Linked DNA regions of Homo sapiens. The protein of the gene in region 3 interacts with the protein of the main gene of each other region in a pairwise test. Each region holds a gene or a part of one and is shown on either strand. Other genes may lie near its edges.

Evidence for each region.
Region 1: the proteins of TRAPPC6A (region 3) and SERTAD3 interact in binary tests that used the Homo sapiens proteins (3 or more experiments, as listed by UniProt).
Region 2: the proteins of TRAPPC6A (region 3) and TEPSIN interact in binary tests that used the Homo sapiens proteins (3 or more experiments, as listed by UniProt).
Region 4: the proteins of TRAPPC6A (region 3) and SMUG1 interact in binary tests that used the Homo sapiens proteins (3 or more experiments, as listed by UniProt).

Annotation. Positions count from the first base shown.
Region 1 is NC_000019.10:40,441,319-40,448,463, reverse strand, and holds the start of SERTAD3 (SERTA domain-containing protein 3), read left to right. Parts: upstream 1-4,128; 5' UTR 4,129-4,249; intron 4,250-4,386; exon of another isoform or gene 4,387-4,609; intron 4,610-5,848; exon of another isoform or gene 5,849-5,909; coding exon of another isoform or gene 5,910-5,975; exon of another isoform or gene 5,976-6,141; intron 6,142-6,377; coding exon of another isoform or gene 6,378-6,383; coding exon 6,384-6,974; 3' UTR 6,975-7,145. Other genes in the region: BLVRB (flavin reductase (NADPH)), read left to right, coding at 418-575.
Region 2 is NC_000017.11:81,236,046-81,243,849, forward strand, and holds the start of TEPSIN (AP-4 complex accessory subunit tepsin), read right to left. Parts: upstream 3,011-7,804; 5' UTR 2,989-3,010; coding exon 2,941-2,988; coding exon of another isoform or gene 2,469-2,940; exon of another isoform or gene 2,115-2,468; coding exon of another isoform or gene 1,957-2,114; intron 1,616-1,956; exon of another isoform or gene 1,442-1,615; coding exon of another isoform or gene 1,415-1,441; coding exon 1,342-1,414; intron 1,033-1,341; coding exon of another isoform or gene 1,027-1,032; coding exon 935-1,026; intron 757-934; coding exon 663-756; intron 1-662. Other genes in the region: NDUFAF8 (NADH dehydrogenase [ubiquinone] 1 alpha subcomplex assembly factor 8), read left to right, coding at 3,319-3,402, 3,523-3,637, 4,942-5,108. UniProt on the Homo sapiens protein: Associates with the adapter-like complex 4 (AP-4) and may therefore play a role in vesicular trafficking of proteins at the trans-Golgi network.
Region 3 is NC_000019.10:45,175,234-45,183,172, forward strand, and holds the start of TRAPPC6A (trafficking protein particle complex subunit 6A), read right to left. Parts: upstream 3,005-7,939; 5' UTR 2,986-3,004; coding exon 2,902-2,985; coding exon of another isoform or gene 2,860-2,901; intron 1-2,859. Other genes in the region: BLOC1S3 (biogenesis of lysosome-related organelles complex 1 subunit 3), read left to right, coding at 4,064-4,672. UniProt on the Homo sapiens protein: May play a role in vesicular transport during the biogenesis of melanosomes.
Region 4 is NC_000012.12:54,179,860-54,185,998, forward strand, and holds the end of SMUG1 (single-strand selective monofunctional uracil DNA glycosylase), read right to left. Parts: intron 4,101-6,139; 5' UTR 4,082-4,100; coding exon 3,797-4,081; intron 2,765-3,796; coding exon 2,237-2,764; 3' UTR 1,789-2,236; coding exon of another isoform or gene 1,660-1,788; 3' UTR 507-1,659; downstream 1-506.

The DNA.
Region 1 (7,145 bases), 4.7 Mb from region 3:
GCATGCCACTGCACCCGGCTGATTTTTGTATTTTTAGTGGACTCAGGGTCTCCCTGTGTTGCCCAGGATAGTTTCAAACTCCTGGGCTTGAGTGATACTCCTGTCTCAGCCTCCCAAAGTGCCAGGATTACAGGCATGAGCCACCGCCACTGGCCAGGGCAGGGGATTCCTGTCTGCTTTGTCCCTTGCTTGGGTGCCCAGCACCTGGCCACACAATAGGTAATCAATAAGGATTTATCGAATGAATGAAGCAAAGGATATAGATGAGCACCTGCATATGGAAAGTCCATTCTTGGCTGTGACACCACCCAGGCTGGACACACAGTAGGCACCCTGGGAAGGTCTTTCTGGGGGTCGAATTTTGGGGGAAGGGAAAGGTGTCTGCTTTATCCAGCCCCTCTTGTCTTTACTTCATAGGAGACCAGCCACTAACTGGGGCGTACACAGTGACCCTGGATGGACGAGGGCCCTCAAGGGTCATCTCCAAACATGACCTGGGCCATTTCATGCTGCGCTGCCTCACCACCGATGAGTACGACGGACACAGCACCTACCCCTCCCACCAGTACCAGTAGCACTCTGTCCCCATCTGGGAGGGTGGCATTCTGGGACATGAGGAGCAAAGGAAGGGGGCAATAAATGTTGAGCCAAGAGCTTCAAATTACTCTAGAGAAACCGACTGTGTGACTCTTCCTCTCTCTGCCTCTGTCTGAGTATTTTGGTGTGTCTGCCTGCCTCTGTGTAAGATTTGCTTGTTATGCATTCATTCATTTGTTCAGTAACAGTTTATTTTTATTTTTTTATTTTTTTGAGACCGAGTCTTGCTCTGTCGCCCAGGCTGGAGTGCAGTGGCGCAATCTGGCTCACTGCAAGCTCCACCTCCCAGGTTCACACCATTCTCCTGCCTCAGCCTCCCCAGTAGCTGGGACTACAGGCGCCCACTACCACACCCAGCTAATTTTTTTGTATTTTTAGTAGAGACAGGGTTTCACCGTGTTAGCCAGGATGGTCTTGATCTCCTGACCTCATGATCCGCCTGCCTCGCCTCCCAAAGTGCTGGGATTACAGGCGTGAGCCACTGCGCCCCGCCCAGTAACAGTTTATTGAGTCTGGCCAGGCATGGTGGCTCATGCTTGGAATCCCAGCACATTGGGAGGCCGAGGCGGGTAGATCACTTGAGGTCAGGAGTTCAAGACCAGCCTGGCGAACATGGTGAAACCCTGTCTCTACTAAAAATACAAAAATTACCCAGGCGTGGTGATGCACACTTGTAATCCCAGCTACTTAGGAGGCTGAGGCAGGAGAATCGCTTGAACCTGGGAGGTGGAGGTTGCAGTGATCCGAGATTGTGCCACTGCACTCCAGCCTGGGTGACAGAGCGAGACTCCATCTCAATAATAATAATAATAATAACTTAGCTGGGCATGGTGGTGTGCACCTATAGTCCCAGATACTCAGGAAGCTGAGGTGGGAGGATGGCTTGAAGCCAGGAGTCCAGGTTGGGCAACATAGTGAGACCCCATCTCTACAAAATAATTTTTAAAAACTTAGCTGGGCATGGTGGTGTGTACCTGTAGTCCCAGATACTCAGGAGGCTGAGGCGGGAGAATGGCTTGAGGCCAGGAGGTCAAGGCCTGGCCACTGCACTCCAGCCTGTAGGACAGATCCAGACCCTGTCTCTGAAAATAAAAAAAAGTTTGTGCTTTATTTTGAGGATTTATGCAAGGAGTGGAGCACCAGAGAAGTAAGGCAGGGGGGACAGTTGGGTGTTTTATGAAGCTTCCTTTGGCTACTCTGTGAAGGTGGAAAGGAAGGGTCCAGGAATGGAGGCTGATAGCCCAGAGGGAGTTGGAGGAGGAACTGTAAGGAGGGGAGGAGAGAGTGGGTGTGAGGAATGCCTGGGAGCCTGCGTGGACAGTTGGTGAGGGGTGGAGGGGAGGCATCAGAAAGAAGCATACGGCTGTAACCCGGGGACAGAGTTACACTAGTGCTTCAGGAGGGAGGCTGAGGCTGCAGTGAGCCAAGGTGCGCCACTGCACTCCAGCATCCACGACGGAGTGGGACCCCGTCTCAAAAACAAAAACCCAAATGCAGTAGGGCTTTCCTGAGTTGTGGACCCTATAGGAGGCGCAGGTTTTGGAGGAGGAAGGGGAAGAATTGCTCCTTCCTAATTATGTCCTTTTTTGGAACCTACTGTCCCTTTCTTTTTTTCCCAGGGACACCTTCCCTAGGCCTGGGTGAGCTAAGACACTTCTCTCTCCCTACCTCCAACCCACACCACCCACCTACCTATTCCCCTCCCATTTATCCTGCAAACATCAGGATGACTTGGTTGACAAACTCCAACCGGCAAGAACTGGTCTGAGGAGGCTTAAACCTCCCTTCCCAGAGGTGGCCTGGAGAAAACTGCCTCCTCCCCTTAGGGAAACTCGTTGTAGGGGCGGAGCATTACGGGTGTGGGCTTTCAGGACACTAGCAGTGTCTTCTTTCTGCCTTATTTTTCTGTCACATTCCTGAGCATTTAGCAAACTTTCACTGGGACCTGCTACGTGTCCAGCCCTGTGCTAGGTGATCCTGCAGACCAAGAGGTGGTTGACAGAGATATCCTTGGTACCTGCCCTCGGCGGGGCGTTCCTCAGTCCATATAGTAACTGACAGTCCAGGACTGGGATGGCGGCACAGGAGGCCATGGAATCCTAGAATGGATCCTAACCCAACCTGGACTGCCAGGGAGGGCTTCGGAGAGGAGGAAACCTTTGAAATGTGTTCTGAGAAGCAGCCTGGGAATTGAGGGTATATTTTGAGGATGAGGAAACAAGTTTAAATATCCAGAGGCGAGAAGATTGCTTGAGGCCAGGAGTTCAAAACCAACCTGGGCAACACAAGAAAACCCCCCTCCCCCCTCCCCCATCTCTCTGTCACCCAGGCTGGAGTGCAGTGGCACGATCTCGCCTTCACTGCAACCTCAACCTCCCAGGTTCAAGCGATTCTCCTGCCTCAGCCTCCCAAGTGGCTGAGATTACAAGCGTGCGCCACCACGCCCAGCTAATTTTTGTATTTTTAGTAGAGACGGGGTTTCACCATTGTTGGCCAGGCTGGTCTCAAACTCCTGACCTCAAGTGATCTGCCCGCCTCCGCCTCCCAAAGTGCTGGGATTACAGGCGTGCGCCACTGCGCCCGGCAAAAAATAATATTAATAATAAAGATCCAGAGGCCTTTTATTGTCATGTTTGCGAACTTATTATGTACCTGGCATTGTTGTAGACACTGGGGTAAAGCAGGGAAGAAAACAAACAGAGAAAATCCTTTCGTTTTCCTGATGGGGTGAATGGGAGCTTGAAGCCATTTTAGAAAAACTGGAAGTGACTCAATGGGGCAGGATCGGAGAGAACCAGGAGAACGCATCAAGCAAGGTCGTGAGGGGCTTTGTGGCAAAAGGAAGGAGTTTGAAGTTTGTATTCGGGGTGGGTAGGAAGCCATGAACAGTAGCAGAGGAGTCATCTTGATGGAGCGGGGAAGGAAAGAGGGTGTCAGAAGACCCAGGTGGGACCACCAGAGGACGTGCTGAGAAAACCTGAGGATTAAGAAGGGGCCGCGCGGTAACGTATAGGGGGCGGGAGGGGCAGCAAGGGGGCGAGGCTACGATCGCCTAGGCAACGCGGGCCGCGCCACTCTATTGGCTGGTCTTCCGCTACGTCATCCCCCGCGCCCCAGCGTCCTCCCTCGGAACCCCGGGGGCGCGGCCTCCTCCGGTTGCTCGGCCCCGCCCGCCTGCACAGCGACTTGGGGAGGGGCATGCCAGCCCCTCTGGCTCCACGGTGGAGTCCAGGCCTACCATAAAGGAACCGCAGGGAGCAATGGTGACGATCTTGGAGCGAGGACTGTAGCTGAGTGGAAGGAAGCGGTTCTGTTGGACCGGCCGCCCTCCACCCCGGAGTCGCTGCCCCGCCCCCTGCCAGTTGCACTTCTTTAAATGGCCCGGGGCGCTAGGGAGGGGTGGGCGGATCCGGCGTCTCGGGGCACGGGCGGATGGCTCCGCCCAGCCAATCGACGCCCCGCGGCGGGCGGGACTCCAGCCAATCGCGGCTCGCGGCTCGGCTCCGGGGCGGGGCTGGTGGGCCAGAGGCCAGACGGAGAGGCCCCGCCGAGGTGAGCGAGGCTCCAACCGGTCACTGGTGGGTCCTGGCACTGGCGGGTCGCAACGCTGTGGGCGTTCCAGGAGGTGGTCGTGGCGAACCTGGCAGCTGCGGTGAGGAGTGGTCGCCTGGCTTGGGAATTTACCTTAGGCTGGGGGAGAGAGAAGCGCGCCCCGGGGACTTGCGGAGGCGGGGTCTGGGTGGGACCGGGGGAGGGGGCCTCAGATTCAGGGTGATGATAGGGAGGGTCTGGGGACCTGAGACTGAGTTCAAGACCCAGGAGGGGAGGCGAGGTTGTTGGGGCAGTATTTTCAAGTGGAGGGAGTTTGAAGCTGGGACGTTGGGCTTTTGGAGAAGCGAGAGAACAGAGGGGAGGAACTTTTGAGACAGGGAACCTGGAGATTCGATTCCACTTGGGTCTTCCGGACGGGTTGAATTCGGGGCTTTATCGTGTTCTGGAAAAGGTGTGAGAGGTACGGAGCTGAGATTCTGAGTATTTGGAGAAGCGAGAGAACTAGGGTCAAGGATTCTTGGGACTCCAAGACGCACTGGCGGGGGAAGGAGGTTGCCGGGAAGAGTTCAATGTTCGGGTCTTGGAGCCGGACAGCGAGTTTGGAGGTGAAGTCCAGGGGCGTTTGAAAGTCAGGAGACTAGGAGAAGTGGGAGGAAGTATCAGAATTAGGATACGTAGTCTCCCGAACTAGATCGGAGCATTGTCGTCTTTGAGCGATGTGTTCGGATCTGGGTCTCTGGATCCAAGGGCAGTTTGGAAGGAGAATCGCGGACTTTCAAGGAACAGAGGGACCGGGAGAAAGCAAATTTAGAGCCGGAGTCTGGGGTGGGGGAGGGGTGTTCCGGGCCTGGAGCTCAGACTCGCGGCCCCGGAGGCAATGGAGGGCGGGGCTCGGCAGGCGCCGGCAGCTGGACGTCCAGGTTCCCTTCCCCCACCCGCCTGTGCCCCTGTGCGCATGCCCTGAGGGAGAGCGGGGTGAGGGGGGTGGCTCGTCCCCTGGACGGGCGGAGCCCTCTGGGGATTGTAGTGCGTGCTCGACGTCAATTCGTGTACCTGGCGGCTGTTGGCCCCCGTTTCCCAGAAGCCCCTGGGCCAAATTGGGGCGTTCCTGGATGCTCTGTAAGGACCCATGGGGGGGCGGGGCCTTACAGTGTCGCGGTCTGATTGAGTGGGACCTCCGAGGGGGCGGGGCTTGGTCTGAGCTGAGTTCTAGCAAGTTTTCCTATGGGGCGCGCTTTGGGGGAATCTGAAAGCGTGGGCAGAGGGAATGAGACAGGCCCCTTTCCTACTCTTGGGAGCGCTCCCAGTCGGTTAAGGAAGAGGACATAGAAATATCCCGACTGTTGAAGAAGAATCTCAACATAGGTTCCCCAACAGGGCTCCAGGAGATTTCGAATATAGTAGGCACTCAGTAAATCTGTTGAGCGAATAACTGGCAATTAACTCTTGATCGAGGCCGGGTGTGGTGGTAATCCCAGCTACTCAGGAAGCTGAGGCGGGAGGATCGCTTGAGCCCAGGACTTCGAGACTGCAGTGAGCTGTGATAGCGCTGCTGCACTCAGCCCTGGGCGACAGAGCGAGACCCTGTCTCTAACAAAAAACAAACACAACTCTTGTTCATTAAGCACTTCCGGTGTGGTGGGCCCTATAGATACGTGGCATCTCCTTGACAGAGGTGGTGAGAAGTATTTTTTTACAGTCCCTATTTTACAGATGAGGAAACTGAGGCCCTGAGAATTGACTCATTCAGATCACTTCCCATGATCACGCAGCTGAGCAGTTTCCAATACAGAATTCAGATTTGGGGTTCCCTACTTCCAATCCAGGTCTCTGTGCTCCACACTTGTCTTTCGTGCTCCATGTTTGAAGAAATTAATATTGTGGAAGAACAGTTTTAAGGCTTAGAGGAACTTGAGTTAGGATCCGTACTTGGCAGATGAGGAAATTGATTCTCATGGATGTAAATTCACTGTTTGAGGCCACAACAGGCAAGTAAGTGAGATTTAAATCTAGCTGTACGTAACGCCAGATCTTATTTTCTTAATCGTATATGTACTCACCTTCTTAAACTTGTAGGATTCAGACAGCCTTCATTTTATACATCAGTAAACTGAGATTCCGATGATTAAAAATCACTAACAACTCAATAGGCCTGAGAAAGTGGGATATGAGCCAGCACTACGGTGTCTGGTGTCTGACCTTCCCCTATGCGCCTCTTCTCTCTACAGGGCATCATGGTGGGAGGCTTGAAGAGGAAACACTCTGATTTGGAAGAGGAGGAGGAGAGGTGGGAGTGGAGTCCAGCAGGCCTTCAGAGCTACCAGCAAGCCCTGCTCCGCATCTCCCTAGACAAAGTCCAGCGCAGCCTGGGCCCCCGAGCACCCAGCCTCCGCAGGCATGTCCTCATCCATAACACCCTCCAACAGCTGCAGGCTGCACTTCGCCTGGCTCCCGCCCCTGCCCTGCCCCCCGAGCCCCTCTTCCTGGGCGAGGAGGATTTCTCCCTGTCAGCCACCATTGGCTCTATCCTCAGGGAGCTGGACACCTCCATGGATGGGACTGAGCCCCCTCAGAATCCAGTGACTCCCCTTGGCCTCCAGAATGAAGTGCCACCCCAGCCTGATCCAGTCTTCTTAGAAGCTCTGAGCTCCCGGTACTTGGGGGACTCTGGCCTGGATGACTTCTTTCTGGACATTGACACATCTGCGGTAGAAAAGGAGCCTGCACGGGCCCCACCAGAGCCTCCTCACAACCTCTTCTGTGCCCCAGGTTCTTGGGAGTGGAATGAACTGGATCACATCATGGAAATCATTCTGGGGTCCTAAAACTGTGATAGAGGGGATCGATCCTTCCTCATGTCATCTTCGGTGGCCTGGATCCCTGAATGCAACTCTGGGTGTGTGTTTTTGTGGGGGCTCGAAGCAGTGACTATGGCCTCCTTTGTTCCCATTTCAGGGTTCCACAAACTGTCTTGCATGTGTGTGTGTGTCTGGTTA
Region 2 (7,804 bases), on a different chromosome or scaffold from region 3:
ATGGTGCGCCCAGTGACCACCTGGAGCCAGGCCTCCCTCCACCCCATGGAAGATCTCAGGCCAAGCCCCCACAAGTCCTCATTAGGCAGAGGCACATGGGACTGCCCCCAAGCCTGCGGGGACAGCTCCCCCAGACCCATCTTCTGCCTGGACAGACCGACTGGCCGGGGCCCCGCCTCTCCTGCCTCCCAGCTCCGCCCTCCCATGGCCTCACTCTGTCTTGGGCTCCGAGGAGCAGCCCCAGAAGGGGAACCCACAGCCTGGGAAGGATGTGTGAACAGGCACTGAGTCTGCTATGTGTGGGCACTGGGATGGAGGGGGAAGACCCGTGGGGCACACAGAGAAACAAACTGGCACCCGGGGCAGCAAGCGCAGGGACAGACGCAGCCAAAGGCCCAGGGACGCATAGGAGGCACGGAGGACCCAGCGGAGGGAGGGGGCAGGGCGCGTCAGGGGAGGCCGAGCCGGCCAGCTGGGGTGAGGGTGGGCAGCAGGTGGAGAGGCCAGAGATGGGCCAGGATCAGCAAGGCGGGGCTTTGATCGGGACCCGGCCCAGGTGAGGGCTCTGGCTGAAGTCTTCCTTCTCAAACCTGGAGGATCCGCCACCCTCCCCCATTCTCCAAAGCCCTGGCTCTTCCTGAGCGCGTGCGCGGCCCCTGTACCTGCAGCTTCCTGGATGAAGGCAGAGTTGCGTTTGAGGATGAGCAGGAAGAAGGAGGAGCCGTGGCTGCACAGATAGAGCAGGATCTTCAGCACCTGGGGAGTGGGGCGGTCAGCAGTGCTGGGCAGGCCGGACACGGGACACCCAGGGCAGGGCCCGGGGGCACCCCAAGGGCACAGAGCTGCCTGCCACCCTGGGCCGCTCGTCTGCTCCTCCATCCTCACCACCGTGGGCCGGGCCTCAGGCCTGACCCTTGACCACCCAGGGGCTCACCTTGAGCTTCCCGTGGCCGGAGCTGCTGTGCAGGCGGCTCAGGAGGTACTCCAGCAGGCACTGGCTGCTGCCCGGAGACTCGTGGGAGATTTCTGCGGCACGCTCGGGTTAGGGAAGGGCGAGATGATGAGGGCTGCGCCAGGCCGCAGGGAGACCAGGCCATGGGGCCTCTCAGTTCACGCTCCCTGGAGGCGCCTACTGGAGGCTCTGCCATCAGGAGCACCTGGGCTTCTAGGGTCCCCTGTGTCATCAGTATTGCAGCCTTCAGACCCCACCCATGCCTGGTTACAATAATAAAGGAGCCGTGCATCCCCCTAGGGACAGCAGAATCCCCAGGAACCCTTTGCACCACTCTGGGACCCTGCCATCCGCTCTTTCCACTACACGGGGACATCAAGGAAGGATACTAGCAATCTCTTCAAACAGGTAGCCCGGACACGGGACATCATCATCGGACGTCCCCTTCAGGAGAATCGGGAGCTGAAAGGGAACAAGAGCCCCTACCATGATGAGGTGCCATTTCCCACAGGGGTGAATCCGCAGCCCCCCAAAGGGGATGGAAACGACCCACCTCTCACTGTTGACATGGCCGGAGAGAGGACTGGGAAGGGATGAGAACTGTGCTACTGGCCACAGGGAGGCTGCAGCAGGGTCCTCTCTCAACAGTCAGGGATGAACAGCCTCGGAGAAGAGGCAAATCAATGGTGGTTCTCCACGGAGGAGCTGCGCCACTTGGGTTAAGAAGGGACACAGCCCCCAGCCTCCCTGCACTTACCAGCATGTAAGGCTATTTGAAGGTACCTCTCCTGTACCTACCTACTGACTAGCAAAGCCAAACAAGGCCCAGGCAAGCCCCTTTTCCACACAGGGGACTATGAATCGTTCCACCTCCCCAGAGGCCGGAATGGCAGAGTGACAGCCGCTCAGCGTGACTAGCTCCATCGCTCCCCGAGAACCGACTGATGTCGTGTGTTTTACGTTCGCTTAGCGCAGACGTACTTATTTGTTTCATGCTTACTTACTGGCACAAAGATGTACGGTTTATAGGGATGAAAACTGGAACCACCCATTCTTGCATTATTCAGTATCAGGACAGAATAGAGTTCAAGAGTATTTAACAGGACAAGCATGGGACCCACCGCGTGAGGTGCCGAAGCCTTTCGGTCGGAAGGGCCGAGATCTAGTGACAACATACGAAAACGTGGACCTGAAGTGTTTCCCGAGGCTGTGGACACGCATCACTGACACTGTTTGCCCACCACGCCCTAAGGGGAGCTGCTGAGGTTTGCAGGTGACAGCTGACAACTGCAGAACGCAGCACAGAACGACTATGTCGAAACCTTGCACTGAGAGCCTTGACCAACCCTAGCGTGGCTTCTGGCAGCCCAAGGTCGCGCCCTGGGACCACCCAGCCCCCTCTGAGGTCCAGCCCAGGAAAGCTCAGGGCTGACAAAAGAGGGCAGTTTGCTCAGGACGACACCTGGGAACTCGCCCCGGCCTCTACTTCTCAGAGGGTTTACTAAGAGGGGCTTACAATGGTGCGTCCTTCTCTGTCCCTTCGAGACGTCTGTGTTCTCTGCAACCCAGGGGTGCCTCTCCAGGACCGGAGTCCTCTGAAACGCCACCGTCAGGGAGGACGGCGGGCTGCCAGCCCACCTGGGCGCCAGCAGCACGGACACAGCGGCTCCACGTCCACCGGGTCCGCCGCTCCTTCCCTCCCGTCGGAGGCCACTGAATGCTGGCCGAGGCCTGTTCGTTCCCCCAGGGTCTGGCTGTGCCCATCGCCCTTGCGCTCGGCGGGTCCGGCTTGGAAGGCCCGGCTTGGAAGGCCCCGGGACGGCGCGGCGGGCGGGCAGCTCAGGGGCGTCGGCGCGGGCGAAGGGGCCAGGAGCAGCTACCCGGCGCGGAGACGCAAGGTCAATGGCTCCGGCCCGGGGCGAGTCCGGGGAATGCGGCGCTCGAGAGGAGCCGTGGGACCGGGGCCCGGGCGGACCGCCCTCACTCACCCGGTGTAGAAAGCTCAGGCGGTCCCGTAGCGGCGGCGCGGCAGCCATGATCCAGGTCCCCTCCCGGTCTGCCCCGCTTCCGCCAGGCCCGGGCCCTCCAATCACTGCGCGGGTCTGGGTCCGCCGGCCAATCCCTCACGGTAGGGCGGGCCCTGAGGTTGGCTTCGTAAACAATTGGAGCCTAGGCCAATCCGAAGTCCCAGAGCACAGACAGACTAGGACAAGAGCCAATTGCGGGGGCTCGAGGCCAGGCAAAGCCTGGCCAATTAAGAAGTTCAGGAAAGGTTATGGGCGGAAGCGCCGACCTATCAAGCTGTTTGACACCGGAAGAGGACGGACCTAAGATGGCGGCCTCCAGGGGGCTGGGAATAGCCGCTCATGTCGGCTAACGGAGCGGTGTGGGGCCGCGTGCGAAGCCGCCTCCGCGCCTTCCCCGAGCGGCTGGCCGCCTGCGGGGCCGAGGTGAGGAGCCGCGGGCGGGCCAGTGCTGCGGGGCAGGAGGAGCCGCGCGGGGAGGTGGCTGGGAGGGAGGACGGTGACGGGGTCAGGGGACCCCACGACCCACGCCCGTCCTTTCCGCAGGCCGCGGCGTACGGCAGGTGCGTGCAGGCCTCCACGGCCCCGGGCGGCCGCCTGAGTAAGGACTTCTGCGCGCGGGAGTTCGAGGCCCTGCGGAGCTGCTTCGCCGCTGCGGTAGGTGGGCGCGGGCCCCTTCCCCCCTTCCCAGCCCTTCCCCTCCAAGAGCCAGCGGGCCCCGGCTTTCCTTTGCTTTCCCGTTGGTTCAAGGTTTGAGCGCCTGCCGCGTGCTTTAGACGCCGGCTGACAAAATCACCGAGCCATCGACGAGCCCGCGAAACCTCGGCCGTCCTGGGCTTGTCCCTGCATGTTTGTAAAGCGGGACTGGCACCAACCTCAGAAAGGATGGGAGATGTGTGCAAAAAAGCGCCTTGTAAAACGCGTAAGCTTTCGTGTTAGCACTGCCGCCGGGGGGTGTCATGCCAGGATTGACCCAACACAGGACTCCCGGAAAGTGCCCAGCACCTTCCGGGTCTTCACCTCCCTGGCACTTGCAGCCCCTGTGCACCTGCAGTGGTGGATTCCTTCAGCACGTGTCCTGCGGGGAACCCCCAGCCACCCTCACAACTGGCACGATAGGGCTTCTTGCCCGTGGGGCTTTAAGTCATTCTGAGGCTGGTTCCCTAAGTGTCAGCCGCACCGGGTACCACCTCAGTGTATCTGGGTAGGCCTTGATGCCAGTGCTGACTCTGTTTACTGGGAGCTGTTAATCCGGAGATTTGGACCAGAGAAAGGGTATTTGAACAAGAGTTCCACGGCCTTCATCCCTACCCGGCCCCAGCAGCCTTGGATCCAGGGGTGGACAACTCATCAGAAGTTGCACTTTTTGCTGGGTGTGGTGGCGCGTGCCTGTAATCCTACCGCTTTGGGAGGCTGAGGTGGGTGGATTGCTTAGGCCTAGAAGTTTGAGACCAGCCTGGGCAACATATGGAGACCCCGTCTCTACAAAAAAAAAGAAAAAAAAAATTAGCCAGGCATGGTGGTGTAGTCCCAGTTACTTGGGAGGCTGAGGTGGGAAGATCACTTGAACCTGGGAGGTGGAGGTTGCAGTGAGCCGAGATCACGCTGCTGTACTCCAGCCTAGGCAACAAAGTGAGACTGCATCTCAAAAAAAAAAAAAGGGGGGGGGCTCCTGCTTTCCCTCTATGAGAGCTTGAGACCAAATGTGGCATCTCGTGGGGGCTCAGAGGAGGGGGCAGCAGTGAGTTCTGTGATAGTGTCATGAGGCCCTTGTCCCGTGGACAAGTGACCCAGAGAACCTGCCCATGGGGCCCCAGGCTCCAACCAGTCGAGCCCCCACCATATGCCAGCACCCAAGTTCTCTGTAAGGTATTTGGTAGAACACAACGTGTGGTGTGGTAGCTTGCTTTTGAGGCGTATCTAACTTGGAAGCAAGCCATTCAGACAAAACACTTTATCTTGCAGGCCAAGAAGACGCTGGAGGGAGGCTGTTAGGAGGGACTCTGAGCTTCACACCTGTCTGCTGCCATGGGTGCAGAGCCCTAGTCCTGATGGCCCCTGGTGGCACATATCGAATGCCTAGGGCAGAAAGGAAGTGGGAATGGCGAAGATGTGACATTCCTCGGTGTTAGATCCTGTTTTTTCTTAACAAGTTGAGGCGTGGGTAGAGCAGGAATTGGTTTTCCAGCATTGTGTCCGTAAACCTGAGTTAGAATAAGATGTAACGGAAGCCACGATAAAGACTCGGTCAAATCCTGCAGCCTGGGGCTTACTGTGTGCAGACTGCAACATGTGGGTCTTGGCCTCTCTGAGATGGAATGGGGCCCAGAGCCTTTCCCCCAAAGCTGGCAGGGCTGGGACTTGGGGACACCCTGCCTCAAGGTCCCCGTTTTAAAACACTCTCACTAAGGTATTTAATGTGAATCTGGTGAAGCCTGCAGACCTTGCTGTGGGTATACAGCACACACCAAAGACAAGGACGTCAGCACCACGAGGGGACACTCCATGGGGCAGGGTCCTCGCAGGTGGCTTTCCTGGACACGGGGCAGGGCGGAGGCTCTTCACAAAAGGGCCTGAGTCTCCGAGAGGGGCCTGCGTAGAGCACCAGCAGCCAGTGCCCCTCCTGTGTGGGGTTGGTCGCCCCCTCGGCAGCCCAGGTACTTCACCGATGGCGCCTGCCCTCTCGTTCCCCCTCCCTATCACATCACTTGACCTAAAACTAAGGTGAGAAGGGCCACATCCTGACTCTGCCCGGGCACTTGTTGATGGTGAGACCCCGGAGTCCATGGGGCCTGAGCGCCACCTGCAGGGCGTGGCGGGGACTGCTTTGAGAGCCCCCCTGCTCCGGGGTGCAGAGGCTGCACTTTCCTGGGGCTGCAGCCTGCGCCTGCCCCCAGGCCCGTGCTAGCGGCTGACCCCGTGGGCTGAGGTCTGTTCCTCCATGTTTCCTCCTCCAGATGCTGCCCCAGAATTAACCTGGTTTCCCCTAAGGGTCTGATCTGGGTGGTGGGTCTGCAGGAGCCAGGCCAGAGTGCTGGATTTTGTCCCAAGGGCCAGGATAGTGTCACATCTTGGGAACCACGGAAATCCAGACCAGACTCCTGGGGTCAAGCCACCGCAGTCCATCCCTGTGCATGCCAGACTCAGATGCCCTGCGCTGGCACAAACCACCCGACCCGCCTCCCCAGCGTGCAGGGCCGGCTGCCCCCCACCCCTGCCTTCCTCCTTCTTGTGCCCAGCACTCATCCATGAGCGAGCCTCAGTGTGCAGACGTCCTTTTCTTAGCCCTGTCACGCCCTCTCCGTTCTCTGGCAGCTCATTGGCAGAGCTTCCTGCATCTTCTCCCTCCAAATCCAGCCTCCCATCCCACCCACAGACCTGTCTTGCCAGCACTCCCCCTCGCTGTCCTTCACCCTGTGTGTGAGGTGGTGACAGACCTGCCACTTCCTGTGGCCCAGCGTGGCCCACACCTCCAAACTCAGCTCTCAGGCCTCCGGGGTACACCCTCTTTTCTGCCACCCCAAATTTCCTTGCAAACCTCCCACCTTTGCTCTGCCCTTCCTCCCTGAGTGACTGGATTTCAGCACCACATCGATTGACAGCTCAGGAAGCTGGGCGGGTGGGGGGGGGGGAGGCGGGGGGGAGGGGGAGGGGAGGTTGTGGGGGTTCTGCTGTTTTCGCACCGCAGGGACAGTGTGGAGCTCTAACTGCTTCAGGTGCCCTTGGGCCGTCCCTGCTGCCCTAACAAAGCACCTGAGACTGGGTGATTTACAAAGAACGGCCTGATTTTTCACAGCTCTGCAGGCTGCGAAGCCCGAGATCCAGGCATTGGTACTGGTGTCTGGGGAGGGCCTTTGTGCCGTGTCCTCACACTGCAGAAGGCGGAGGTGCAGCCTCTTTTATAAGGCTCTTAATCGTACGAGCGAGGAAGGAGCCCTCGGCCTAGTCACCTCTTGATACTGTCACTTAGGCAACTCCTGAATTTTGGAGGGGACACATCAAACCACAGCAAATGCCTTGGCTCTCAGGAGATACCCAAAGTTCTTTGAGGGCTCAGCTCCGCTCAATCCGTCCCTGGGCCAGCGTGCTGCGCAAGTCTGTTCCCGCGCAGAAGTACACACCGGCGACGGGACAGCGCTATCCCTGCTCTGGAACTGAGCCCCCAGAGGCAGACTCCACAACCCAGCGACCTGCACCAGGACTGACCAGACAGGAGCAGCCTGTCGTCAGAAAGCGCAGCCTGGCCCCGGGGCCCCTCTGTAACATTCTGAGAAGCCCCACCCAGGGGTCTGCGAGGCTTCTGGGGAAAGAAGTTTCTCTTTCCTTCCCTGAGGGGCTGCCACCTGGGCTGGGGGGTGGGGGTGGGAAGGAATAAGGAACCACATGTGCATGGGAGCAGGTGACCCTGTCTGTGGCTGGGGGTGCAGGGACTCCGGGGTGCAGCGGGGTGGGCGACAGCAGAGGCACGGCCGTCATGGATGCCTCTCTGTGCCGGCCAAGGGCAGCCCGCTCCAGCAACAGAAAGCGGGGAGGGTGGAATAACCTCCAGAGAAGGAAAAGAAAACTGGGTCACGGTAAGATATTTGGGGAAATCCAGCCGGAATGAAAATCCCACTCTGAGCAATTTAACAAATGGAGTTCCAATCCAAGGGGAACGTCCAGAAGGAGTTTTACCACTGAGCAGTGGTTCATTTGGAACTGGTTTTAATTGAGAATGAAGGACAGAAATGACCAGGACTGAACCCCCTTGGCGGGGCACCTCCCAAATGCTGAGTGGTGCCCCTGGCCCCACAGCCCCCTCCCAGCCTCCTCCCAGCCCCCTCCCAGC
Region 3 (7,939 bases):
CTGGGGGACAGACCGAGACTCTGTCTCAAAAAAAAAAAAAAAAATTAGCCGGGTGTGGTGTCGGGCACCTGTGGTTCCAGCTACTCGGGAGGCTGAGGCAGGAGAATGGCATGAACCCGGGAGGCGGAGCTTGCAGTGAGCCGAGATCGCGCCACTGCACTCCAGCCTGGGCGACAGAGCGAGACTCCGTCTCAAAAAAAAAAAAAAAATCAAATACATCCTTATTGAGTATGATGAAGCCTACCAAGAAAAAAGTGCGAGAGGGAGACCAGGAGAATGTATAAAGGAGATCCAAATTTGACTGGGGGCTCAGGGAAGGCATCCCTGAGGAAGGGATTGTTACGCTAAGATCTGAAGGATTAATAGTTGTTAGCATGGTGAAGATGTGACAGGTGGAATGGGCTGGGAGAAGGGAGCAGGCTCATTTCACAGGAGAGCGGAAAGCACTGGACCAGGGCAGAGGAGGGGCCACGTGAGAAAGGTATTTAGACTGACTGGGCAGAGCCTGGGGGAGGGCTGCAGGTGAGGGAGACAAGGCAGGTGTTGGGACTCCAGGGTTTCTCGTTTGAAAGCCAGGAAGGATATGGAGTGTTGGGACATTATTACCCACCCCCAGGCTGATGCATACTCCCTGGGCCATGCTGTATCTTCCTCATAGCAGTTACACAATGTACCAGACACTTTACTCATTTACTTGTCTGTCTCCTCCAATGATGACAAAGCTCCAAGAGTCCAAAAATTTTTGATGGTTCACTGAGTAATCCCCATGTTTTTTTAGAGACAGGGTCTCACTCTATCACCCAGGCTGGAGTGCAGTGGCATGATCATAGCTCACTGCAGCCTTGAACTCCTGGGCCCAGGCAATCCTCCCACCTCAGCCTCCCGAGTTCTTGGTAGTATAGGCATGTGTCATCACGCCCAGCTAATTTTAAAAATTTCTTGGCCAGGCACAGTGGCTCACACCTGTAATCCCAGCACTTTGGAAGCCCGAGGCGGGCAGATCACGAGGTCAGATCAAAACCATCCTGGCTAACATGGTGAAACCCCATCTCTACTAAAAATACAAAAAAAAAAAACAAAATTAGCCGGGTGTGGTGGCAGGCACCTGTAGTCCCAACTACTCAGGAGGCTGCGGCGGGAGAATTGCGTGAACCCAGGAGGCGGAGCTTGCAGTGAGCCAAGATTGCGCCACTGCACTCCAGCCTGGGCGACAGAGCAAGACTCTGTCTCAAAAATAAATAAATAAATAAAAATAAAAATTTCTTTTAGAGGTGAGGTCTTGCTATGTTGCCCAGGCTAGTCTTGAACGGTGGGCCTCAAGTGATCCTCCCACCTCTGCTTCCTGAGTACCTGGGATTACAGGTGCAAGTCGCCACATCTGGCTAAATGCATTTTTGATTTATGATGTTTTAAACTTATGACAGGTTTGTATCTGTATATCGAGATGGTAACAAGCAACATCCTCCCTGGGGCTTCTAACCCTGGAAGGAAACCAGAGCCAATAAAAATGTCTTACATGGCCAGGTGCGGTGGCTCACGCCTGTAATCCCAGCACTTTGGGAGGCCGAGGCGGGTGGATCACAAGGTCAGGAGTTCGACACCAGCCTGGCCAAAATGGTGAAACCCCGTATCTACTAAAAAAAAAAAAAAATTGGCCGGGTGCAGTGGCTCACGCCTGTAATCCTAGCACTTTGGGAGGCCAAGATGGGCAGATCACGAGGTCAGAAGATGGAGACCATCCTGGCTAACAGTGAAAACCCGTCTCTACTAAAAAAAATAATAATAATACAAAAAATTAGCCAGGTGTGGTGGCGCCAGCAGCGCTTGTGGTCCCAGCTACTTGGGAGGCTGAGAAGTGGGATGATCGCTTGAGCCCAGGAGGTCGAGGCAGCAGTGAGCCATGACTGCATCACTGCACTCCAGCCAGCCTGGGCGACCGAGCAGGATGCGCGTGCGCGCACACACACACACACACACACACACACAGTCCCGGGCCAGTCACGGTAGTTCACGCCTGTAATCCTAGCACTTTGGGAGGCCCAGGCGGGAGAATCACTTGAGCCTAGGGGTTCAAGACCAGCCTAGGCAACATGGCAAAACCCCATTATCTCTTTTTTTTTTTTCCTGAGACAAGTCTCGCTCTGTCGCCTAGGCTGGAGTGCAATGGCACAATCTTGGCTCACTGCAACCTCCGCCTCCCAGGTTCAAGCCATTCTCCTGTCTCAGCCTCCCGAGTAGCTGGGATTACAGGTACCCGCCATCATGCTCGGCTAATTTTTGTAGACACGGGGTTTCACCATGGCCAGGCTGGTCTTGAACTCCTGACCTCAGGTGATCCGACGGCCTCGGCCTCCCAAAGTGCTGGGAGCTACAGCGCCCAGCCGGCATATTTCATTTTATTATTTGACTCCCCTAGTGAAATGTAAGCTTCACAAGGAAGGGATTCTGTCTTAGAACGGTGCCTGGAATACAACAGACGCTCAATAAGTGGGTGTCGAATAAATAAATGTCCCACGCTGAGGCTTAGGTACGTTATGATACTCATTTTACAAAAGAGAAAACTAGGACACACAAAGATTAAGTCATTGGGTCGCACACCTAGTAAGTGGGGGAGGCGAGTCCTCAGCACACGCCCAATAACAGCATTATTATGATTACTAGCCGCTTACTCAGGCCTTGAGCTAAGTGCTTTACCCTGAATCATCGCGCTCAATTTAGCAATAACCCCGAGCCGGCACCGTCGCGAACGCCACTTTCCAAAGGAGGAAGCCAGGGCCAGACGTTGCCCTGCAAGGCCGGGGCTGGGCCGGGTTCGAACCCGGACGCCTGACGCGCCCTCCGCTCTCCCAGAGGCGTTACCTTGGTGGCCCCCGCTTCCTCCCCACGGAGCCCGGCGCTCACCCCCGGGCCGGGGTCGGGGTCGTGAGCCCACAGCTCAGCCACCATCTCCGTGTGAAGAAACTCAAACAACACAGTATCCGCCATGCCCCCTCCTCGCACGCCTAAAGATGCGCCCAGCGCTTCCAGCTCTCATTGGCCAGGCTTGGTAAGCCACGCCTCTTGCGTCATGGCGCGAGCCCTCCTACTCCGGCTTCCATTGGTGTTTTAGACTAGCCCCGCCTCCCCGCCCCGGACTCAGGTGGTGTGCGCGTGAGCCTGGGACACTAGGGGGCGGGCCTACGCCTTCTCTGGCCACATGTGGCAACATCTTCTGCTCTTACTGCCGTCCCTTCCCTATTTCCGGGTTCTCGAGCATTCCTATTGGCCAAATTACTGGTTACACGTGACATACTCGGCTTTTAAAATCCCTATTGGTCCACTCCAGACTTTCCTCGTCGCACAACCTGGAAGAGCCGGCCCAGCTGTTTCTCTATTGGCGGTTCCTCCATTCATGTGACTCTTCTGCACGCTCACTCAAAGCTGATGCTGAGAACTTGCTTCCTGATTGGTAGCCGGGCGAATCCACGTGACTTGGCCGCTAATGCCCGCCCAACCCGCTCCCCTATTGGTTGAAATCACAGCCCTTCAGCTGCCACGGTGAGAACGCAGCACTCGGGTTAGGAAGCGGATCTCGCAAGCTCCGAGCGTCAGCTGCCGGGTACGGTCTTTGGCGTTAGCGCTTCTCCCATCCCATGAGTGCCCCCAGCAGAGTCCAGTCGGACTGTCATCCTTTCTGCGACTCTGGCGCTGGTCCCGAGCAGCTCACGGGCCCGTGTGCTTCCGGGTCTGAGATTGGCATGGTGGACCAGGTGGAGGGTGTGGCCTCTACTAGGAGGCAAATTCGTAAAGACCTCGGCTTGGGACTCCGGGAACTCGGGCCCCAGATCCTTGTTCGAGCTGGTCTTCAGTTTCCCCATCTGTACGCTGAAGAGCCTGGGGTCCAGTAACCCCCATCATCACCCAGTTTACAGAAGAGGAAACTGAGGCCCAGACGGGGAGCAGCTGACACCAAGTCGTTAAGAGAATCAGCGAAGGGGCTGGGAATCCAGGACCTGCGCCTTTTACCCACCGCGGCGCCGGTCTCACGTGCAGTCCCTTCGCTCTTCTCCCCTAGTTCGGTGCCATGGCGTCCCAGGGTCGTCGGCGGAGGCCCCTGCGGAGGCCGGAGACGGTGGTGCCGGGGGAGGCGACCGAGACGGATTCCGAGCGCTCTGCGTCCTCGTCGGAGGAGGAGGAGCTGTACCTGGGTCCTTCGGGCCCGACGCGCGGCCGCCCCACGGGGCTGCGGGTGGCTGGGGAAGCCGCGGAGACCGACTCGGAGCCGGAGCCGGAGCCGGAACCGACGGCCGCGCCGAGGGACCTGCCTCCACTCGTGGTGCAGCGGGAATCGGCGGAGGAGGCCTGGGGCACGGAGGAGGCCCCGGCGCCCGCCCCCGCGCGCTCGCTCCTGCAACTTCGGCTGGCGGAGAGCCAGGCGCGGCTGGACCACGACGTGGCGGCCGCCGTGAGCGGTGTCTACCGCCGTGCAGGCCGCGACGTGGCCGCCCTGGCTAGTAGGCTGGCGGCAGCCCAGGCGGCGGGGCTGGCGGCGGCCCACAGCGTGCGCCTGGCGCGCGGGGACCTTTGTGCGCTGGCCGAGCGTCTGGACATCGTGGCTGGCTGCCGCCTGCTGCCGGACATCCGCGGCGTGCCAGGGACCGAGCCTGAGAAAGACCCGGGGCCGCGGGCCTAGCCATGATTCTACTTCCCAACCTGACTGCAATTTGGGGGTAGGCCTTGCTGCCTCTGGGACCTGACTCTGTCTCCTGTGTCTCTTATCACCCCCCACCCCCGCTCCCATCTTGGTGTCACCCATGGGGGCTAATCCGGTCCCCTTGGATAATGCTTTATATTGGATATAGTTCAACCCCTACTGCGGAGACCAGGGCCCCACTATCCTTAGATCTGGTTCCTCTCCCGATCCTGACCCTGCCGCCTGGTTCTGAGCCTTCCCCTGGGGCTTGGCTCCAGCCTTTGTTACATAGTTGCTCCTTAATCTGTTTCCACCCTGGGGGCTCACCAATTTTTTTTTTTTTTTTTTTTTTTTGGAGACAGGGTGTTTATCTGTCACCCAGGCTAGAGTGCAGTGGCGGGATTACTGCTCACTGCAACCTCGACCTCCTGGGCTCAAGTGATCCTCCCAGCTCAGCCTTCAAGAGTAGCTGGGACTGCAGACCTGCACCACCACGTCCAGCTGCCCGGTTAATTTTTTTCTGTCGGTTTGAAGAGGGGAGAAGGTCTCACTATGTTGCCCAGGCTTGTCTCAAACTCCCGGGCTCAAGCAATCCTCCCACTGTGGCGTCCCAAAGTGCTGGGGTTACAGGTGTGAGCCACCACACACTGGGCTCTGCTCTGCCTTTCTGAGTTTGGTTTCTGCTTATGGTGGGGAGCTTGTTCCCGTTCTTCCCACAAGAACCCAGGATGTGGCACAGCTTCCCTGCCGTCTTCCTTCACTCAGTTGGCTACGCCTCCCATCCTAGCTCCACTTCCAGAACTGCCTTCACCCTAGGCTGGGTCCTTGTTTTGTTTTTAGAGACAGGGTCTCACTGTGTCTCCCAGGCTGGAGTACAGTGGCGTGATCTCGGCTCACTGCCACCTCCACCTCCCGAGTTCAAGCGATTCTCCTGCCTCAGCCTCCCGAGTAGCTAGGATTACAGGCATGCACCACCACGCCTGGCTACTTTTTATATTTTTAGTAGAGATGAGGTTTCACCTTGTTGGCCAGGCTGGTCTCGAACTCCTGGCCTCAGGTGATCCACCCGCCTCACCTCCTAAAATGCTGGGATTACAGGCGTGGGCCACTGCGCCTAGCCAGCTGGGTCCTTGTTCTGCTGCCCAAGCTTGGCCCTGGTTCCGTGTGCTGGTTCTACTTTTTGTTCTCCCATCTGCCTCCTGCCTCCTCCCCTTTGAGCTTAGCCCCGCCCTCTCAGCCTGATTTCTGTTTCCCAAGTCCAGCAGTGTCGTGGGATAGGTTTTGCTTTCTTTTACTGTCTCCATCCTACTTACACCTCCCTGATCCTGGGGTCTGGGGACTCCCCATGGTTTCCTTCCTTCTGCAGGCCCAAAATGATGGCCCCTCTTAACCCAAGGCAGGGGATCTTCCTCCCAACTCCCTGGACCAAGGTGGCATTTCCTGCACACCCCTCCAGGCCAAGATGATGCTCGCTCTCAACTCTGTAGGCCAAGGTGGCGTCTCCTCTTGACTCTCCAGACCTAAAGTGACACCCTTCAGGCACTTCGGGCCCAATTCAGCCCAGTCCTGGTGCTTTCAGCGCCAGATGACAGCACTTTGCAGATAAGAACGATATGATGTGTGGATTTCACTACATTTGGCTCCTGGATGCTATAAAAGGACTTGGATTTCTGACTTGGCTCAGGGACTGGGGTTAGCAGTCTCTTTCTGCTCCTTTTCACCTGTGTTTTCTTCCGATCCCAGCTCTGGTCCCTCAGCCGCATTCATATTTACTCTCCTCTCCCAGCCTGATATCCCTGTCCCTCATCTCAACCCGAAGCCAAGATCTGAGCCCCCAAGATGGAGAATGGGGAGGAGCTTTTTATGGCGGACTGATTAAAACTCTTAAGCATTTACCCTTATGGTTAGTTCCTTTTGTTTCCCTATCTAAGCTAAGGGTGAGTTGGTTGATTTCTCTGAGAATGGGGGTCCCGAGACCTCCATGCCTGGCTTATGGAAGGTGAAGCTGTAGTTGGGAAATCAGGGGCCCTAGATTTTTGCCCTGGTTCTGTATTTACTCGTATTTTATTAATTCAACACACACGTTTTGGGTACCTGACCTGTGCTGCGGCTAGGGGTATAGCACCCAGTCCCTGCCCTCACAGAGGTCGCAGTCCAGTGGGAGAAACAGTAATAAGATGTTCTCATAGATAGTTCTAGTAATCATAATTTATAGTTTAATTTTTAAAAATAGAGATGATAGCCTGGCCAACATGGTGAAACCCTGTAGTTATTAAAAATACAAAAATTTTGGGCGATGTATCACGCCTGTAATCCTAGCACTTTGGGAGGCCGAGGCACGTGCTAGTAATTCCAGCTACTCAGGGAGCTGGGGCATGAGAATCGCTTGAACCCTGGAGGCAGAGGTTGAAGTGACCCAAGATCGTGCCACTGCACTCCAGCCCGAGCGACAGAGCAGGACTCTGTCTCAAAAATAAATAGGCCAGGCGCAGTTACGCATGTCTTTAATCCCAGCACTTTGGGAGATCGAGGTAGGCAGATCACCTGAGGTCAGGAGTTCTAGACCAGCCTGGCCAACATGGTGAAACTCTATCTCCACTAAAAATACATTAGCCAGGCGTGGTGGCACATGCCTGTAATCCCAGCTACTCGGGAGGCTGAGGCAGGAGAATCGCTTGAGCCCAGGAGGTGGAGGTTACAGTGAGCTGAGATCATGCCACTGCACTCCATCCTGGGTGAGAGTGAGACTCCATCTCAAAAATAAATAAAAAATAATTAATTTTAAAAAATAAAATAGAGACGAGCTCTCACAATGTTGCCCAAGTTGGTCTTGAACTTCTGAGCTCAAGGGATTCTCCTGTCTTGACCTCCCAAAGGGCTAGGATTACAGGCATGAGCCACTGCACCCAGCCATAATTTATAATTTAGATACAATTTTCTTGGCACCATGATTAGAGCCATGAAGAAGTAAAGGAGCTTTATGAAGGTGGAGCGGGATCCACCTGACCTAATCTGGGCGGGAGAGAGGAAGTGATGAGTGGTGCTGGAGCTGAGCCCGGAAGGTGGAAGTAGGTGAAATGGGAGTAGGGTGAAGAGTTGCAGACAGGGAGAACAGCATATGCGAGGGCCCTGAGGCAGAAGGGAAAGGGACCATAACCTGTTTAACAGAAGAAGATGATTTCTGCTCTCCACCTAGAATGGAGAAGTGTGGGGTGGTTGTGGGGCAGGGGGGTGCTGAGTGCAGTACCAGAAGGGGCCAGATAAAGG
Region 4 (6,139 bases), on a different chromosome or scaffold from region 3:
AGCCAAATGAAGACAAATATATGGTAGGGTCCAGGAGTGTCCCAGGCACAGATGTGTGCCCTCTGCTCATAGAAACAGGATACCAATGCACATCCCTCAGCACATCCATGTGTTCACCAGCCAGGAAGCTGACCAAAACCTGTGTCAGAAGTTTTTATATCTAGAGTTTTACCATAGATATAATTGGTTAAAATCATCGGCATGTGGCTGAACTCAATCTCTAGCCCCTCTCCCCTCCCTGGGGATCAAGCTGGTATCATCCAGCTCAAAGTCCCAGCCCTGTAACTATATGGTTGGTCATTCTGGCATGGTCAGCCTCCATCCTCAGTCAAATCTTACAGCAAACTCAGGTGTGGTCTGAGATCAAATTCAATATAAAATTAGGTGCAGCCTAAGGTCAAATCTCAACATAAATTCAGGTGTAGTTTCAGGGACCTGCCACGAAAAACAAAGATACTCCTATTACTTGGGAAATTCCAAGGATTTAGAGTCTCCTTCTCAGGAACTGAAGACAAAGGCCAAATTCTTTATTATACAATGAAGTAGGGGAGGATTTATATGAAAAATCTTACTAATTCTGGAAGCTGGAAATGACCTGTGTCCCAGGAGATAGGAAGTAGACCATGTGTTCCTCATTAAGGTGGTCTCAAGACCTGCTCTGCTCCCAACTTGGTTCACTTTCCCAGCCCTTACCAAAGGGGCACCCAGTCAACCATTCAGCAGACATAAAAAATGAGTTGGATACCAGGTTCCCATCTGCCCCATCACCTGTTTCTCACGGTGTCCAGAGTATCATATAAGACCCCTAACAGACACTTAACAGAGACCCTGCAGGTTTGGTAAGGCAATTGGAGATCTGCTACATCCAGCCAGGCAGCAGCACTTTGGGAGGCCAAGACAGGTGGATTACTTGAAGTCAGGAGTTTGAGACCAGCCTGGCCAACATGGTGAAACACTGTCTTTAATAAAAATACAAAAATTAGCCAGGCGTGGTGGCACATGCCTGTAATTCCAGCTATACAGGAGGCTGAGGCAGGAGAATCACTTGAACCGGGAAAGCAGATGTTGCAGTGAACTGAGACCATGCCACTGCACTCCAGCCTGGGCAACAGCATGAGACTCCATCTCAAAAAAAAAAAAAAAAGAGAGATCTACTACATCCTTCCCCCAGCTGCCCAAGAGAACCCCTGGCCAACAATGAAGAGGGAAGAGGGGGGAAATCTAAATGACTACCTTCCACCTCTAGCATGCAAGAGGGGGAAAAAAGTAACAAGACAAAAGGCTTTAGGAGCTCTTAATGCTTAGAGTGAAAAAAAATCACAGGCTAGTTTTTTCATAGTCATTGATCCATCTCTGACATGGCAAGAATTTTCCCTTCACCCTGGCCGCAGGTGGAAGCCCAGACTCTCTCCTAGCAAGGTATCCAGAATGGAGAGGGGCTACCCTTGTAGTGCAGTGCTGTGAATCCTCAACCCAGAGGCAAGAAAACAAGAAGACTATGTAATGAGCACCCACATGCCAAGCCCATGCAAGGCACTTTCAAGTGTGATCTCAGTTAATCCTCACACCAACCCCATAAGGTAGGCATCCCTGTTTTACAGATGAGGAGCCTGAGGCATAGAGAGGTTTATTAATTTGTCAATCAAAAAGTTCCAAGTTTCAAAGCTGGGATGAAAAGCCAGGTCTTCTGACTTGCACTCTGTCACACTGGATTTTTCCTCTGATCCAGCTGCAGCCTCCCATAAGAAGTTCACTCTTAATTTCATGTCCCATGCTTTGTCTTGGTCCCTGTGAGGAAAGGGGTCAGCTAAAGGTAACTGTTCTATAAGGATGGGTAGGTATCCTGGCAAGATATTTCCTCTGAAATAGTAAACGTGACCTTAGAAGTTACTGTCTAGGGCACTCTCAGCTGAATAAAGTCTCCCAAGGAAACACTGAGGTAGAGCAGTCTGCAAGTGCAAAAGCACACCTTCTGCAGATTCCCTACAAAGTGGGGTCCCCTGAAAGGGGCAATGTTAAAAGGTAAAGAAAGCAGGAATCAGGAGGGCAAACAGGAGTAGTGTCAAAACTGCCATGGCAGGTTGGAAGACAGTTCAACAGATCAAAGAATACGTTTCCCAGCGACCAGGGTGCACAGAAGGACCTTTTGCTCCAGTCCAGGAGATGTGTTGTCATCTGCTTGGCCAAGAATGACTTCGAGGTCTTGAATGTGTCCCATGCAAGGCCCCAAGGGCACTCATTTCAACAGCAGTGGCAGCAGCCCCAGCTCATTCAATCTTTCCTTGGCCACTGCCTCCCAGCCCTTGTTGGCCTGTGGGTTACGGGGAGAGGGATGCAGGAGCCCTTCCACCTGGACCTCTGGCATCAGGCCTGCCAGAGCCCGTCGTGCCCGCTGCTCTGCCAGTCGCCCAACTCCCACCACCAGCCGCACCCCCAGCAGCTGCACCTGCCGGCAGAGGGCTGCATCACAGATCCCAAGAAGCTGTTCTCGCTGCTTGGCAGGCAGCTCAGCAGGAGTAAGGTTGCGCCCGCTGGGAGCCAGGAAAAGCAGAGGGCATAGATTGTGGACAAAACAGTGATGGAAGAAGACCTCAGGCTGTCCACAGAGGTTCCGGAAAAAGCCCCAGAATCGGGCACCACTCACTTCTGACTGTGGGCACTCCAGTCCCAGCACTGGTCGTTTAGGATGCTCTTGGGGAGGGGTCAGCACAGGCCCCACAATGCCCAACCAGTCCCGGACCATGCTTACTTCCCCAAAGGGCACCTGTGAGGAAGGAGAGAGACATGAAAGGCTTCAAACTGGAGACCTGAGGCCCGGGCTCTGGACCAACTGACTTCTTTATACCTTACATGAGGATCCAGCCTGCACCCCCTACCCCTACCTTCACCCAAAGGCCTGAGACAAGGATTCTTGGCCCTATGGTTTGAGCCTGTCTGTCTTTTTCCAGTTCTTCATTGTGAACCGTGGTCCAGAAGAATTTGTTTCCCTCTAGCCCAACTAGCCTTTGGGACTAAGTACAGGGACTACATTGAGATATCTAGCCCTACACAGGGTTTGATGGTTAGTACTGGGGACAGACAGATGGTCTGAGACAGAAAGGCAGCCAGGGTTAAAGGAGGCACAAGGATGGGCTGACCACTGCTGTCTGGATGCCCTCTCAGCCCCAAGCCTCAGGCTGTCATTTCCATCGATCATCATTGATCACCTTTCATCACCCAGTTGGGGTCAATAAAAGCGATTGAGCCTTCTGCCCTGAAGCCTCTTCCCCTCCCCCACCTGCCAAGCACCCCCACTGGGGGCAGTCACTCATCCTGAGCCCTGAAAGAAAAGCGGGCAGGCACTGGAGCCAGGCTCTGTTTTGAACCTCGCCTTAGCTAGGAAACAGAACCCAGGTTCCCAGAACGCCCTGCATCTCTTACATACCCACCCCTGTCAACCAGTCTCTTCTGAGGACCCAGCAGTCCTAGTCCCTCTTCTGACCCCAACCACACTTCAGGGACAGGGGAGATCCAGTAAAGTAAGGATGGGGCTGGCGGAAGGAAGGGCTCTCAGAGGCAATTACTGGCCAGCTCACAGGGAAAACGAAACTACCATTAATGTGCTTGGTTAATTACGGGCAGAGACGCTGGGAGAGGGCCTCGGACCACAGGAGCCAGTATATGTGTTGAGACAGAATGGGGCGGGAGGACCTACACATGTCTACAGCCATGCACATGCTCCTTCTCCACAGCACACCCAGCCAAGCATCCACCTAGAACCCCCCACTCCACCCACTGGGGAAGCCAAACCCTTTACCCCAGTCTGGGCCATGCCAAAAGGTCCAGGGTTCATGCCCAGGAAGAGTACTTCCTTGGGGCCCTGGCAGTAGCGAGTCACGTAGTTGCGATGTGGCTCCCATGCATACTCCACGGGATTGTAGATGATGCCCACAGGCTCCGAAAACTGCAGCTGGCTCAGCTCAGCATTGAGCCGAAGCTCCTCCTCCAGGAAGCTCTCAGCCAAGCTTCCAGGGCAGGGCTGGGGCTCCATGAGGGCACCTGCAGGCTCATGGATGGACCCCAGCAGGAAAGCCTGGGGCATATGTCCATGCCGCTGTCACCTGGGAAAAGAGATGGACAGAAGCCCCATCAACCCTCAGCCACAGAGTAGGAGGGATCCATGCTTGCCAGGGCCCCCACTACCATTTCCTGGGCTCAGAAGGGACCCTAAGAGACCATGTCAGTCATCTACCAACCACCAAGTAGGACTGAACTCATCTCAGTTCTTGGTAATGAAGGGCCCTTTCCCTCCCCACTTCCATTATCTGTCCTCTTCACATGGCACCTGGTGAGGATAAGCCATAGCCACCAAACATCTCCCACTCCAAATCTCCTTTCCATCAGGCATAGGTCACTAGTTCCTGGGCTATGCCGAGCACATAGTAGGTTTTCAATAAACATTTACTGGTGGCATCCTTTCAGCACCTTTAAGGTCATCCTAAAAAAGAAAAGCCCAGCCAGAATGGACTGTTCTGGAAAGCACGGCGCTGAAGAATGAAATGCAAGTGCACAGCCACAGCCCAGAGACCTGGGAAGGCTAATTACAATAGCTTCCAGGTGGTGAGCGACTGCTCTGCACCAGGTACACCTCATTGATCCTCACAACAATCCCATGAGGTGGGTATTACTGCTCCCCTGTTATAAGTGAGGACACTGAGGCTTAGCAAGATTAAGCAACTTGCCCAAGGTCTTACAGTTAGTAAGTAATAAAGCTGGATTTGGTTGAGCCCAATCTCTCTGGCTCAAGGCTATGCTTTAACCACCCACGCCATCTTGCCTTAGATGGTTTGATCAGCCACCCTGCTAATTCTACAACCCCCTAACCCCAGCCTAGCTTCTTTCCCACACTCAGGAATACCGAGTAGGATGATTACAGACTCCTCATAGAATCTTACGAGCTACACAACCATGGCCAGAGCCTCAGGTTTCCACCTTCAAATACAAAGAATAATAATATCCACTTAATAATGTTGACATAAGGAAGGCCAGGCATGGTGGCTCATGCCTGTAATCCCAGCACTTTGGGAGGCCAAGGCGGCTGAATCACCTTAGGTCAGGCGTTCAAAACTGGCCTGGCCAACATGGCGAAACCCCGTCTCTACTAAAAATTACAAAAATTAGCTGGGCATGCTGGGCGTGGTGGCTCAAGCCTGTAATCCCAGCACTTTAGGAGGCTGAGGTGGGCAGATCACCTGAGGTCGGGAGTTCGAGACCAGCCTGACCAAAATGGAGAAACTCCCACCTCTACTAAAAATACAAATTAGTCAGGCATGGTGGTACGTGCCTGTAATCCCGGCTACTCTGGAGGCTGAGGCAGAATCATTTGAACCTGAAAGGTGGAGGTTGCGGTGAGCCAAGATCGTGCCATTGCACTCCAGCACGGGCAACAACAGTGAAACTCTCTCTCAAAAAAAAAAAATTAGCTGGGCGTTGTGGTGGGCACCTGTAATCCCAGCTACTCGGGAGGCTGAGGCAGGGAGAACTGCCTGAACCCGGGAGGCTGAGGTTGCAGTGAGCCAAGATCGTGCCACTGCACTCAAGCCTGGGCAAAAGAGCAAGACTCCATCTCAAAAAAAAATAAAATAAAAAATAAATAAATAAATAAATAAATAAATAAATAAATAAATAAATTTGCCGGGCGCAACAGCTCATGCCTGTAATCCCAGTACTTTGGGAGGCTGAGGCAGGTGGATCACGAGGTCAGGAGTTCAAGATCAACCTGGCCAACATGGTGAAACCCCGTCTCAACTAAAAATACAAAAATTAGCTGGGCATGGTGGCACGTGCCTGTAATTCCAGCTACATGGGAGGCTGAGGCAGGAGAATTGCTTGAACCAGGACCTGGGAGGCAGAGGTTGCAGTGAGCCGAGATTGTGCCACTGCACTCCAGCCTGGGCTACAGAGGGAGACTGTCTCAAAACAAACAAACAGACGTAAGGATGGAATGAGATGTTATGTTTAGGTGAAGGGAGAAAAGAAATGGGAGAGGAAGAAGAAAGGGAAGAGAGAAGGGAGGTGGGAGGAAGGAGAAGGGAGGGGGCAGGAACATGACAGCAAGCTTTGTAAACTGCAAAGGCCATTGCTTCACTCCACTCCCATT